2 linked regions of the Homo sapiens genome follow. The protein of the gene in region 2 interacts with the protein of the main gene of each other region in a pairwise test. Each region holds a gene or a part of one and is shown on either strand. Other genes may lie near its edges.

Evidence for each region.
Region 1: the proteins of ASNS (region 2) and WDR27 interact in binary tests that used the Homo sapiens proteins (3 or more experiments, as listed by UniProt).

The regions. Positions count from the first base shown.
Region 1 is NC_000006.12:169,657,015-169,664,042, reverse strand, and holds part of WDR27 (WD repeat-containing protein 27), read left to right. Parts: intron 1-164; exon of another isoform or gene 165-480; intron 481-1,618; coding exon 1,619-1,739; intron 1,740-3,276; coding exon 3,277-3,380; intron 3,381-4,524; coding exon 4,525-4,592; intron 4,593-4,835; coding exon 4,836-4,957; intron 4,958-5,684; coding exon 5,685-5,767; intron 5,768-5,996; coding exon of another isoform or gene 5,997-6,112; exon of another isoform or gene 6,113-6,281; intron 6,282-6,435; coding exon of another isoform or gene 6,436-6,455; exon of another isoform or gene 6,456-7,028.
Region 2 is NC_000007.14:97,869,381-97,876,389, forward strand, and holds the start of ASNS (asparagine synthetase [glutamine-hydrolyzing]), read right to left. Parts: upstream 3,029-7,009; 5' UTR 2,971-3,028; intron 2,786-2,970; exon of another isoform or gene 2,339-2,785; intron 434-2,338; 5' UTR 398-433; intron 1-397.

The DNA.
Region 1 (7,028 bases), on a different chromosome or scaffold from region 2:
GCAACCTCAGAAAACCACTGAGGCCCTGCAGGTCATGTGAGGGGTGGGCCATCAGCAGATGGAGGCACCTGGTGTGGGTGGGGACGGGGGTGAGAGGCTTTGGTGAACAGAAGAGCAGAGGCACCAAGGCAGCAGCTTTGCAGCTATGGGTTGCTTTCCTGCAGTGGGTGACCAAGGAGGGCAGGTCATGCTGATCAGAAAGGTACACTGCATGACTCAGATGCCACCTGCACCTACCCAGCACCCTCCACGTCCCCACCTGGCCTGTGAATCTTAGACGCCACCTACACCTGCCCAGCACCCTCACATCCTCACCTGGTCTCCTGCGCATCACAGATGCCACCTGCACCCGCCCAGCACCCTCGTACTCACCTGGTCTCCTGCGCATTGCAGATGCCACATGCACCCACCCAGCAACCTTGTCCTCACCTGGTCTCTGGCTGTCCAGAGTTGCTTCCTGTTGACGACAGCTCTCCTCAGGTGCGCTTTTTATCTCCTGTACTGTCACAAAGGAGCTGACCCTCTCCTGGAAGAAAATGTTGATTTTACTTTTCAATCCAGGGGCCACCTCTTTCATTGGTGTGTGCAGCTGACGTTTCATATTACAGAAATCATCTCTGGGCTCACAGCCTACACTCTCTTCCTCATTCTGGTTACTCATTCTTTCTTTTAGGTTGTGTTTTTTTGTAGATGACTTTAAACTATTTCTTTTCATATTAGGTCTGAAATTACTTTTATCCAGTATACCAATTTTTTCCTGATGTTTTAAACCTTGGTTTTTGTTATTTATTTGATAATATCTACTGCTGAAGGAAATCTTAAACTTAGTTTTAGGAAATATGAAGTTAAGTTCTTTCAATTGATTATCTCCTCTTTCCCACTCCCTTGCTCTGGTTCTGCACTTGAAGTTGCATTGCTCCCAGGTAGCGTCATGCTGGGTGTTACCTTAGTGCTTTCCTCGATGCGTGATCTGAGTGACTCCATGGTGCATACACATCATCCTGGGTGTTACCTTTGTGCTTTCCTCGACGCGTGATCCGAGTGACTCCGTGGTGCACACGCGTCATGCTGGGTGTTACCTTAGTGCTTTCCTTGACGCGTGATCTGAATGCTCCGCGGTGCACACGCATCATGCTGGGTGTTACCTTAGTGCTTTCCTTGACACGTGATCTGAGTACTCCGCGGTGCACACGCGTCATGCTGGGTGTTACCCTAGTGCTTTCCTCGACACGTGATCCGAATGCTCCGCGGTGCACGCGCGTCATGCTGGGTGTTACCTTAGTGCTTTCCTTGACACGTGATCTGAGTACTCCGCGGTGCACACGCGTCATGCTGGGTGTTACCCTAGTGCTTTCCTCGACACGTGATCCGAATGCTCCGCGGTGCATGCGCGTCATGCTGGGTGTTACCTTAGTGCTTTCCTCGACGCGTGATCCGAGTGACTCCGTGGTGCACACGCGTCATGCTGGGTGTTACCTTAGTGCTTTCCTCGACGCGTGATCCGAGTGACTCCACGGTGCACATTCACTGCAGCATCTCTGTGTGGCAGTCCTCAGCCTTTAAACTTGACGGATGCATTTAAGTTCACTTCTTAGATTCTCAATAATTCTGTCCCTAGAAGAAAGCCAGCTTCCCTCTACAAGTGCTCTGGGAAAAGGAGAGCAGGTTGAAGTAACATTTCCTGTACTGAGACTTGCACCCTGTGATCTCTCACTCATCCCAAATTCTGCATGTGGATGGTAAGTATCAAAAACTTTGCCTATGCCACATAAAGGAAACCTCTTAAATTCCTTAGATGAACATTAGGTTCATTTTCTAAGAATGACTGAGATAAAACCAAATTATTTTGGTCTCTGATTATTAGTAACTTCATTCTTGGGATTGCATGTTTTAAATCTTAAAGTTGGTAAACTTGGGCAATGATACGTAAGTGTCTTTAATAAAAGGAATTGGATGATTTTTAAGTTTATTACCAAAGTCTAGGCAGATCTTTGCCTCTGTGATACAACTTTTTCTTTAGAAAGAGGAAATGGTGATTGGAATGGCCTAGACTTTCCCATCTACCGCTGTGCTATACATTACACATTTAAAGTTAACCCCAGACTAATTTTATTTATTTCTGTGCTCAGTAGAAATATTATTACATATTTGGCAACATAAGGAAGTACTGTTTAACTGTGATTCAAGAATATATTACAATTATGTTTACTTCTCCTCCCCAAAATGCTTGAGATTAGGGGGCAACCTTGCTTTGAATGGCCTTGGCCGTTGCTTGTCTTTGTCTCTGTGCAGAGCTGCCCCTGGAGCAGAATATTCCCTGCTTGGTCCAAACCACAGAGAGTAAGCAGGGTGGGCATGGAGGCTGGACACGGTGCTCCCGGTGGGTGCATGGACCTGAGGCATTTTGAGGCTTCCCTGGCTTACCTCGAGCAGAGGGAGCCCTCAGAGCTAAGCCAGAGCCACATGACCCATTCTGTTGACGATGGTCGTTGGGTGAACCGTGGACTGGTGCTGGTGGATGCCCAGGAGGAGCCCAGGGTGCTGCCTGGGGCGGAGCTGGAGAGGGGAGGTCTGGAAAGCAGGTTCCAGCTGGGGGCCTCTGCCAAGTCCATGTCCAGCCTCCCTGGAGATGGCTTCTCAGTGTATTAACAGACCCCGTTGGCATTGGTATTAACTCTGCCGCCTCGGGCCAGCTACTTTCCTCCTGGAGTTGGTTCCTTATTCACAGAGGTGGGCAGCTTGTGTGGCCTTCAAGTCTAGTCACTCGGAGGCTACCTGAGCAGTGGCCTTGGCCCAGGCACTGGCACTGACCTTTTCTGTAACCTTAGAAGAAAATAGAAACCACAGAGGTCAGAGCGAGCGTCTTCACAGACATTAGCAGGTGCCCAGGGGATCACCACAAATGCGTTGGTGGCACAGATGTGGCCAGCCTGGCACAGATGTGGTTCTCACTGGCAAGAACCTGCCCCGGCCCACGCTCTCCACTCCTGCGGAGAGCTCACAGCCAGGCCAGGGGGCGCACGTGGGGCCCAACGCCCACGCTCCCCACTCCTGCGGAGAGCTCACAGCCAGGCCAAGGGGCGCACGTGGGGCCCAACGCCCACGCTCCCCACTCCTGCGGAGAGCTCACAGCCAGGCCAGGGGGCGCACGTGGGGCCCAACGCCCACACTCCCCACTCCTGCGGAGAGCTCACAGCCAGGCCAGGGGGCGCACGTGGGGCCCAACCTTCAGGAATAAGATTATTGTGTATTCTTTTCTTTTTTTCCTTAAATCAGTCTTTCTTCTGAGAACACCCGATGTGTGTGGATCGGAAGCTCAGTGGGCTTATTCGTATTTAACCTGGCAAACCTGGAAGTGGAAGCTGCTTTGTATTACAAGGGTAAGATCTTTGATTTCAACGCCATGTAACTGTAATGTTTTCCTTTGACTGGTATGTGGGGTAGTGTAAGTGTTTGTGGAGAAGGCCTTGCCGTGTGAATCTGAGGATGAGATGCTTCAGTCACAACTCAGCATTGAGCACGTGAGCACCTCTGTGCTGCTGGATCCGAAGGACGAGGGCCCTTCCCGGACCCTCGGGCACTCAGCCCTGGAGCCACTCCTTGCCTACATCTGCCAGGCCCTCGCCTGGCACTCCAGGCCGCCCGGGCCCCAGCAGCGTGGAACACCTGCAGGAACACCCTTGGGAAGCCCCTGGATTCTCCACCATCCTTAGAGAGCCTCCCAGAGCCCCAGGCTCGCACAGCGTAAACCCGGCCGAGGCGCACTCCTCTCCAACCCTGGCTCCCTTCCCCAGTTTCTGCCAGCTCCAGAAATGTAGGAATAGTCACCTCCACCCCCACCCCCTCCCCCAAGACCCCCATCTCATCCCCCCACCCCTCCTAACTCCATGGATGCCACCAGCCGCACTCTTTCTGCCCAGGAGCCCAGGCGACTTCTGAAAAGCAGGCTGGATTCCGTCCCTCTCCTCCACTGCAGCAGGGCCTCCTCGGCGGCCTCCCGGGCACTGCTCCTCTCGGTGCCTCCTTTCTAGCCCTGAACGCTCAGACCTCTGTGGGGCTGTGGGATGCATCTGTGTCTTCACACACGCCCTTCCCTTCAGCCGCCCATCCCTGCCCCTCCCCAGCTCAGCCAGGCGCAGCTTCTCCTTGAAAACTCAGCCTTTCCTTCCCCCAAATGGTCACAGCTCTAATTACACATTTCCTTTCTGATCTGGTGCTGGACATGTGGCTTCTCCAGGAGGCTGAGCTGCAGGTCTCAGTCCGAGTCACATCCCAGCCTCAGAGCGGAGCCTGGCATGTGTGACGCTCAGGGCCTGGTGTGTGTGTGGTGTGTGCGCTGGTGTGTGTGTGGCCTGGGGCCTTGTATGTGTGAGGATGTGGTGCACAGCCTGCAAAGTGTGTGGTGGGGCCTGGACTGTGTGTGGTGGGCTCTGGGCTGTGTGTGGTGGGCTCTGGGCAGTGACTCCGTGTGTATGTGCTACCTCCCTCCCCATCATGTTCTTCCTGGTCTTCGCTCAACTGAAGATTTCCAGAGCCTCAGCATCCTGCTGGCCGGATCGTGTGCCCTGAGGAACCGCACTGCGGATCAAAAGGTCAGTCCTGAGACGCGGCCCTCCCTGTCTATGAGACGTGCCTCTGATTTCTTCTTTCTTCAGAGTGATCCTGTAACGACTGGCTGAGTAAACGGGATTTTGTGTGTAAAAACGTTTTAGGAGTGACAGGGCGATGTCGCTGCTATGAGAATGAAGCAGCTGTTAGGATACGTGTGCGGATGCACGTTTCGTCTGCTTTTACTGGGTGGTGTCGCTAACGATGTTGAAACCGCGTCCCTGCAGGTGCTGTGCTTGCTGGCCTCCCTCTTTGGCGGGAAGATTGCCGTGTTGGAGATCAACCCGGCCGCGCTAGTCAGGGCTCAGCAGTGCCCCAGCATGGGGCAGAGCCTCTCGGTGCCAGCCAGGTAGAGTGTCTTCAAGTGTGGAGTGTGTGTGTGTGTTCACCAATAAGTGCCATCTGGATTTCTATGTTCAGAAATAAAGATTAGAAAACTCTGAGCTCTGGCCGGGCGCGGTGGCTCACGCCTATAATCCCAGCACTTTGGGAGGCCGAGGCGGGTGGATCACGAGGTCAGGAGATCGAGACCATCCTGGCTAACATGGTGAAACCCCATCTCTACTAAAAAATACAAAAAACAATTAGCCAGGCATGGTGGCAGGCGCCTGTAGTCCCAGCTAGTCGGGAGGCTGAGGCAGAAGAATGGTGGGAACCCGGGAGGCGGAGCTTGCAGTGAGCTGAGATCGCGCCACTGCACTGCAGCCTGGGTGACAGAGCGAGACTCCATCTCAAAAAAAAAAAAAAAGAAAACTCGGAGCTCTGCCAATGCTATTTGGAAGAAGGTTTTTCGTGCTGTTGCTTCTATCTTGTTGAAAACGAAATAGTTGATAGTTTATTTTAATTGAAACACTATTTCATAATAGAATGTACATTATAAAACAGCGCTTTTATTAAGAATATTTTTTTCCTACAAGGATAAGAATACACTTGACAGTTTTCATTTTCAGATACTGTTATGTCCACAGCTGCAGGAATCAGTCATTTGGAACTGTCTTTAAAGTGTGTGTCACTGAGGCATTTCCATCGTATCGTCGTTTGCGCTCCTAGTTTCATGGGGCTTGTTTCTGTTTCAGCTCCTGTGTCCTACCGACCTCTCCACTGTATCTGGGAATTGCCAAGGAGAAGAGTACCAAGGCTGCTAGTGAACAGCGACGTGGTCAGTACAGGGTGCTGTGAGATCTAAGAATACAAGGCTGATGCGTTCTCATTGTGGTTAGGGCTGCTGCATTGCTTTGCGAATTCTTATGTTAAAATATGCATTCCGTACTTCCTTCCATCCTTCTGTCCTTCATGTCTCTGCCTCTCGTGCGTGTTCCATGTCCGCTGTGGTGGGGAACTTGCTGGGTGCTTCGCCTCCTGAATTGGCCATCACTCATGGGATTCAGCAACGTGCCCAAGACTGACCGCTGTTCCTCTGGTGCCTGTTGCAGTGGGGGTGCAGAGTGGACCTTCAGCAATTACTGATTGTGAGAACATTTTTTTCCCCTTTTTTCTCTGCTGAGGAATTTGAAAGCAGATCCCGAGCGTGTGATTGTACTCCTGCACACTTGAGTGTGCATTTCTGGAACATGTATGTTTTTACCTAGCCACCATGACGTTATATCAAAACCAGTCATTTTTTGGAACCTTGTATTAGCAAGGCCATAATAAATTATTCTTGATTGCCTTGACAATATTTCCTATTGGTTTGTTCTGAGCAGCAGCCAAACAAATCCACATGTTGCATCTTTCAAATATGTATAAATTAACTTTCACTTTAAGATGGTAAACGTCATTATGTTCCCTTTCTTTCAAGGCTCACTGATAATTCTTTTTTCCCTTCAGTGACCAGTCTAACCCTTTAATTGGTCTTGTGAAACCTACTGGACCTCATTTGAAAAACGGAGGCATTTCCGCAGCCGCCTTTCACCTTCTGCCTGGTAGCTGCCTGACTGCTGGGCCTCACCTCCCAGAAGGGCCATCTCCCCGGCCAGCGACCTGGCGACCCCACCCTTGGGCCTCTCCCCGGGCCGGGCTCGGCTAGGCTGGGCTAGGGTTCCTGCGTCAGTCCGTCCTCAGACATGGGCTGTGTCCTTCATGCTCCCACGCAGCCCTTGAGCTTGACTTCGGGGACTTCTGGCCTCTCCCTTCCCTACCAGACTTTTTGAAATCAGGCCTCGAACACCTTCTGTGCCATTCCTGGGTCTCACTGACTGTGTGGTTCTGACCCGCCTTGCAGATCGGGGAGAGCTTTCAGGTGGAAGGCGGGGACTCAGAGCTGAGCCTGGGGCTGGAGCTGTTTGCTTGTTCGTCCTGCCATGGCGGTCCCTGCTGCTGGGGGTTTCCAGCAGGTCCCCCATTCCTCCGCCCTGTTTCCATGAAAGACCCACTGTCGGTGTGAACTGCCCGTCTCCTGCCGGTTTATGCTCTGCTGCCGT
Region 2 (7,009 bases):
TGACCTCTACATTCAACCGGCTACAGCAGCTTAGCACCTAGCCAAAGCCTGCATCTCTCCCACCTTAGGATTTAGTGGTTGGCTAGAGCTGACAGCGTCCATGCCACATCTGTCTCTGCATTCTAAGTTTGCTTCCAAGATACAGATACAAATGCAGGCTGGCTCCAACCTAGCCAGAGATCCTAGCCCCACTCTCACCATCCCAAAATCCCTCAAAGATCCAACAGACTTTCCAGATTACTAGAGTCTCCTCTCAGGTTCCCTTGACAGTTAAATGCCCTCTTTATCTGAACTAGCTGCAGGTACCATATAATGGGTACAACAGAAAATCATACTGCTGTAAGTGTAAAAGATACGCAGCTCTTTCAAGCATTTCACTATATTACATCTAGGTTACCTTCAAGTGATTTATTCAGATGTGATTGAAGAAAATCTAAAGGGAAAAAAAAAACAATTTAATTTGATATCAGATATCCTGGCTTTATAACAAATAAAACATTTCAAGTTAATAGAAGATACAAAATATTCACTATCAAAATGTCCTCACTGACAAAAATGTTCTCAAATATTTCTGTCTCAAAGTTGCATTGTTCAGTAAGGAAGCAAAGTAGGTGAGACATATACACCAACAACATCCCTAATAAAAAACTTAGCTCATCCCTATAAGCCCGGAAGCAAATAAATCACCCTTACATACGTTAATTACTTTCCAATTTCAAATTCTCAACTGTGAAATAAAGGGCTGTTTTATTTGGCTGCTGCCAGCTCAAAATGACACATTGCACCATGTGTGGCATTTGGGCCCTGTTTGGCAGTGATGACTGCCTTTCTGTTCAGTGTCTGAGTGCTACGAAGATTGTACACAGAGGTCCAGATACATTCCGTTTTGAGAATGTCAATGGATACACCAAAAACAAGATGTTTTAATTAAAACATCTCTAACTTGAAAAATAACTATTTTGGTGTTTTTTTTAAAAAAACTGCGAATTGCAGCAAATGCCCAAATAGTTTGGGATAAACACCCTAAGGAAAAAATATACATTCAAGTTGCATAAGTCACTTTGAGCTATTCTTTGATGATATTTCATTTATATCTAAAAGAACCAAAGGTTTAGCTGGCTTTTCCGGAAAACCAGAACCAAATAATATATGGTTAGAATGAAAATCATCTCAAGCAATTTGGAAATGAAGTACCACATGTCCTATGCTGTCTCTTCCATGCACTTGACCAAATAGCCCAAATAGCCTATAACAAATTATTTGAGATTTACTGGAAAAATTCCATAAGATTTAAATGAGATGACTACTAATAAGCCATCTGCCTTTGACTCTATATCAATTTAAAACGGGTTAGGAAAGTGCTTTGAAAATCAAGTATGGTCATCAGGGAATCAGTTACCTAAGTCTTCTTAACGCTGCTTAGTGAATCCCTGTATTAATCCTGCTATAATAAATACATTCTAACCACTAAACTGGAGGGGAAAAAGGGAGAACAAAGAGGCATGTAAAGTACACTTATTTTTTCTAGTAGGAAAAAGCCAATTAAAACTATAACCTATTATTTTTATTGGAATCAGTCTTATAGGAGGGCAAAGTTCCTACTGCCGCTACCTGTTCTCAATATTTTTCTTATTTCTTCCTAAACTTCTAGAACAGTGCTGTCCAATAAATATATATGTAAGCCACATATGTAATTTTAAATATACTAGTAGCCCCATTAAAAGAAAAAGGTGAAATTAATTTTAAATAAACTTAACTCAGTATGTCCCAAATAGTAACATTTTAACATATATGTAATCAATATAAAATATTATCGAGCAGATATTTTACACTGTTCTTCCTACTCCAACGACAAAATCCAGTGTATTTAACACAATACATCTCAGTTAGGACTAGCCAGCACTTCAAGTGCTCAACAGTTACAGGTGGCTAGCGCCTACCGAACTGGACATGGCAGTTTCAGTGCATTTAATTTCTATTCCACTTAGTGCTACTTACAACTTCACCCTCTCCCTTTACTTTTATATTAAGATCTCAGTAAGTAACCAACTACAGACAGGTTCAAGCCCTACTTTACCTCTAATTACTCTTACAGCAATGCTATGAATCATGATTTAAAATTTAAAAAAAAAAACTGCTGTTAAATTATTAGTCAAGCGCCCAGGGCAATGGACAGTAAAGAAATAATGTAGGCCACGGGCCGAGATGAAAACTGTCCTTTTTATTTAAAGCTATAACAATCATCTGAAGCCAGCCCTGCAAAATGACAGCCATTGAAAAAGGCATGCTAGTTCTTTTGCCTTTTTCTGTACTTGGTCGCCTGTGTCCCTAAACAGACCTCTTCTCGGCAGGGTTTGCTCAGCAAGTCACTTGATGAGTCTTGCAGTCTACAGAGACAGGTGGGGACTGGTGGGGATGGCGGGGTGAGAGGGGAGGAGGAGGGTGAGCGGTCCAGGTGAGGAGGGGGGCAGTTGAAGGTGAAAGCAGACACCGAGACGGTGATAAGGCCGCAGTCTCTTCCTAGATCAGGACCACGCGACACCTGACTGCGCCCTGGCCACGAGCACGATCCGACCCGTCCGCCGCAGGGACCCGGACCGCGAAAATGTCCACAGGCTTCGACGCCACATAGTAAAAAAAAGTACACATATAACATTTACAGGGGCTCAAACTGCCGCTGCCTCCTCTCCGGAGCGGTCCGGCCTGCCGGCCGCGGTTCCCTCTCGATGCTTCAGGGAACCAGGACAGAAAGGTCCTTCCGCTAGCTGTCAGGTGCGTAACAATCGCTAGGCGTCCGCCCCGCCCTCCCTACCGCAGGAGCCGCAGCATCAGCAGGCGCCCGCGAACCGCGTCTGCCGGGTGCCAGGCTGAAGACCGCATCCTCCACCCCTTCCTTCCGGAGCAGCCCCAGGGCACGCGAGGAGGATGCTGGCGCGGGGCGCAGGGCACGGGGCGCAGGACCCGGCTCACCTGGGCGTAAGCAGGTCAGGGTGATGTGGCGGGCTGAGGCCAGGGATGTGGACAGCTTGACGGGCGGCGAGGCCGCTGGCGCTTATACCGACCTGGCTCCTGTAACGCGTGCGGGAAGTTTCATCATGCCTGCGAGGACCAACCAGCGCGCACAGGGGCGGGGCCGCGGGGTGTCCGGGGCGGAGCAGGACTAAGTGGGGCGGCGGAAGGGCGCAAGGAGGAGCTCTTTTGTTTCCAGCGCCTTGCGTCTCAGTGCGCCTGTTTAAGGATAGCCTCAGAGCTCCGCCCAGGCTACCTGCTGTTCTGACAATTAGGGAGGCTTCTGAACTTGGTTTGTTCTTCGGGAAATCATCACCGTTTTTTTGTTGCACTGCCGTCTGATTTATTATGCAGTGCAGAGAAAAGCTTGTCCTAAGAAACTGATGCGTGAGGCCTAAAATGTCCTTATAAGATCTATTAATAAATCGGGGCCAGGAGCGGTGGCTCACGCCTGTAATCCCAACACTTTGGGAAGCCAAGGCAAGAGGATCACTTGAAACCAGGAGTTCAAGACCAGCCTGGGAAACACAGCGAGATCACATCTCTATAAAAATTGGTGGCACACCATGGTAGTCCCAGCAACTCAGGAGGCTGAGGCAGAAGGATAGTTTGAGCCCAGGCGTTTGAGGCTGAGGTGAGCTCAACTCCAGCCTGGGCGACAAAGGGAGACCCCCATCTCTAAAACAATAAAATCTAAATCTAATTGATACATGAAGCCAAAATACATCAGTGGTCCTTAAACATTTTAAGTACAAAGATTCCTTTTAGAATCTCAAAAAGGATTTTGTCAACTTGCCTCCACAAGATGATTATGTGCTTTTAAGTATCTCTTTGATGAAGAAAAGACATCACGATTTTTAAAAAGTATCATAACACTCTTAAATCGTATTTTACTAATTACATCAGCACCGAAATAAATTGAGAAATAGTAAAATTATATGTGCACGACCTACTAAGATCAGACTACAGTCAATGCTTGGAGAGCATGCAGGTTTGATATCCCCATACAACGCATTCCTGACTAAATCAAAAACGTCAACAATTTAAAATCCCTAAGAACAGAAGATGGAGTAGTCGCTTAGTAGTTACAGGCAAGAGCAAAGATGAGAGATGACTTGTTCTAAGGTTCATTGTTGCTGGAAAGTTTTCAGTATCAAACAGACTTTGCTGTATCCTAATTGACGTACTTTAAACCTGAGAGCAATGTGGGAAAGTAGGTCTTCTATCTACATTTTACAAATGAAAAAATAAGACTCAGAAAAGTTGAGGGATTTATCCAAACACAGCTTCACAACAGTAGAGAACTGAGTCATAATCTGTGTAAACCCAGAGCCCATTTCCCGTAGCATCTTGCCTATGTAGTGAAAGACAGGTTCCCCTGCTTGGTGTGTTACCTAGTGTGCTTCCTTGTGCTGCGTATCTCCTGCTTGTCCGTCCAGAGCTCTACACTTCTCCACCTCACTTTCTATCCTGGCTCCCTTGCCCTCCTCTTTCAGGGAGAGTGTGCAAAGGCAGACATTTCAAGGAGATGCAAAAGGTGAAATTAAAATTGCTAATGAAGTTTTGGCACCATTGTCATTGATAACATCTTATCAGGAGACAGGGTTTTGAGATCAACCGGTCTGACCAAAGTTTATTAGGTGGGAATTTTCTCTTCCTAATAAGCCTGGGAGTGCTATGGGAGACTGGAGTTTATTTCACCTCTGCAGTCTCGACCATAAGAGACAGGTACGCCCCGGGGGGCCAGTTTAGAGACCTACCCCTAGGTGCGCATTCTCTTTCTCAGGGACGTTCCATGCTGAGAAAAGGAATTCAGCGATATTTCTCCCATTTGCTTTTGAAAGAAGAGAAATATGGTTCTGTTCTGCCTGGCTCACCGGCGGTCAGAGTTTAAGGTTATCTCTCTTATTCCCTGAACAATTGCTGTTATCCTGTTCTTTTTTCAGGGTGCCCACATTTCATATTGCTCAAACACACATGCTGTATAATTTGTGTACTTAACGCAATTATTACAGGTCCTGAGACGATATACATCCTTCTCGGCTGACAGGATTAAGAGATTAAAGTAATGACAGGCATAGGAAATCACAAGGGTATTGATTAGGGAAGTGATAAGTTTAGTCCATGAAATCTTTACAATTTATGTTTAGAGATTGCAGTGAAGGCAGGCATAAGAAATTACAAAAGTATTAATTTGGGGAACTAATAAATGTCCATAAAATCTTCATAATCCACGTTCTTCTGTCATGGCTTCAGCTGGTCCCTCCGTTTGGGGTCCCTGACTTCCCGCAACACAGCACAGTGCCTGGCACAAAAGAGTTGCTCAATAAATACATCAGGATGAATAGATAAATACACGGATAGGCACTTTGAACTACAGATGAGCTTAAATACTTTGTGTTTTTCTTAGTCAAACATGTGCAATTAAGCATGTGATAAATGTTATGATGACCACACGTGTGTCTTGCCTGATGTTCTTTGCAATCACTAAATGAAGTCAATTGTGCCTGTTTTGACAGTTCTATTTTCAACCTAATGATCTGTTTATTTTAACTTCTGGCTGTTGGCTTTGTTTGGGTTTGTTAGCCTGACGAAGTGGTAGATATTGGTATTTGCTCTTTTGTTTAAATGTCACGAACTTTAAAAATGCCTTTGCTTTTGGGAAGAAACCCTAGTTAGGACACCCTAGCGGTCAGGATGATTTGGGTTCTGGTGCAGTAACGACAATCCCCAAATCTCAGTGGCTCCATGCAGTGAGGTATTTGTTTGTTTTTGAGACAGGGTCTCACTCTGTCACCCAGACTAGAGTGCAGTGGTGCAATCTCAGCTCACTGCAACCTCTGCCTCCCAGACTCAAGTGATTCTCCTGCCTCCTGAGTAGCTGGGATTACAGGCCCATGCCACCACTGTCTGGCTAATTTTTGTACTTAGTAGAGACAGGATTTCACCATGTTAGCCAGGCTGGTCTTGAACTCCTGACCTCAAATGATCCACCCGCCTTGGCCTCCCAAAGTTCTGGGATGACAGGCATGAGCCACCATGCCTGGCCACAGTGAGGCTTATTCTTGGTCACGTTGCATGTCTGGGCTGTGTTAGGGCATTGTGTGGTGGTCTGTTCATTGTGTTCACTCAGGGATCCAGGCTGACAAAAGCCCCATCTCTGCATGTGTCCTTGATCACCCTTCAGGGGAAACGGAATGTGGTGGATCATAGAGCCTCTTAACACTTCCACCTGGAGGTGACTCAAGTTGCTGCTGCTGCTCATGGTTCATTGGACAAAACGGATCACAGAGTCATGAGCAACTTCTCTGTGCTTGGAAGGGGAAACAAATTTGAATAGCCACATTGATTTTCCCTAGATATTACACAGAAGGCCTCATTTAAACACAGTTACTTATTTGTGTTTTGAAGCTAATTGTAGTCCATCAACCTTCACAGAAGACATGTGCACTTCCAAGCTATTATTAGGCAATTTTTTTTTTTTTGAGACAGAGTCTTACTCTCTTGCCCAGGCTGGAGTGCAGTGGCATGATCATGGATCGCTGCAACTTCTGCCTCCTGGGTTCAAGTGATTTTCATGCATCAGCCTCCCAAAATGCTGGGATTACAGACACCCACCACCACGCCTGGCTAAGTTTTGTATTTTTAGTAGAGATGGGGTTTCACCATGTTGGCCTGGTTGGTCTGGAACTCCTGACCTCAGGTGATCCACCTGCCTCGGCCTCCCAAAGTGCTGAGATGATAGGCATGAGCCGCCGCACCCGGCCTTGAGTATGATTTTTGATTTGGAAGGTCAGAGTTAGGGTTTTAGTCTGAGGACTGTATGATGTGAAGGTGAAAAGCAGAGCTTGGCTGTGAGTTTGCTGGTATTCCTGTGCTGCTTCTACAGCTCTTTGGCTGTGTGACCGTCACCTTTGGCAAGTTCCTTTACCTTTCTATGTGTTGGTTTCCTCATCAATAAAATGGAAAAAATAATCATAATCATAATAGCTATTGGTGT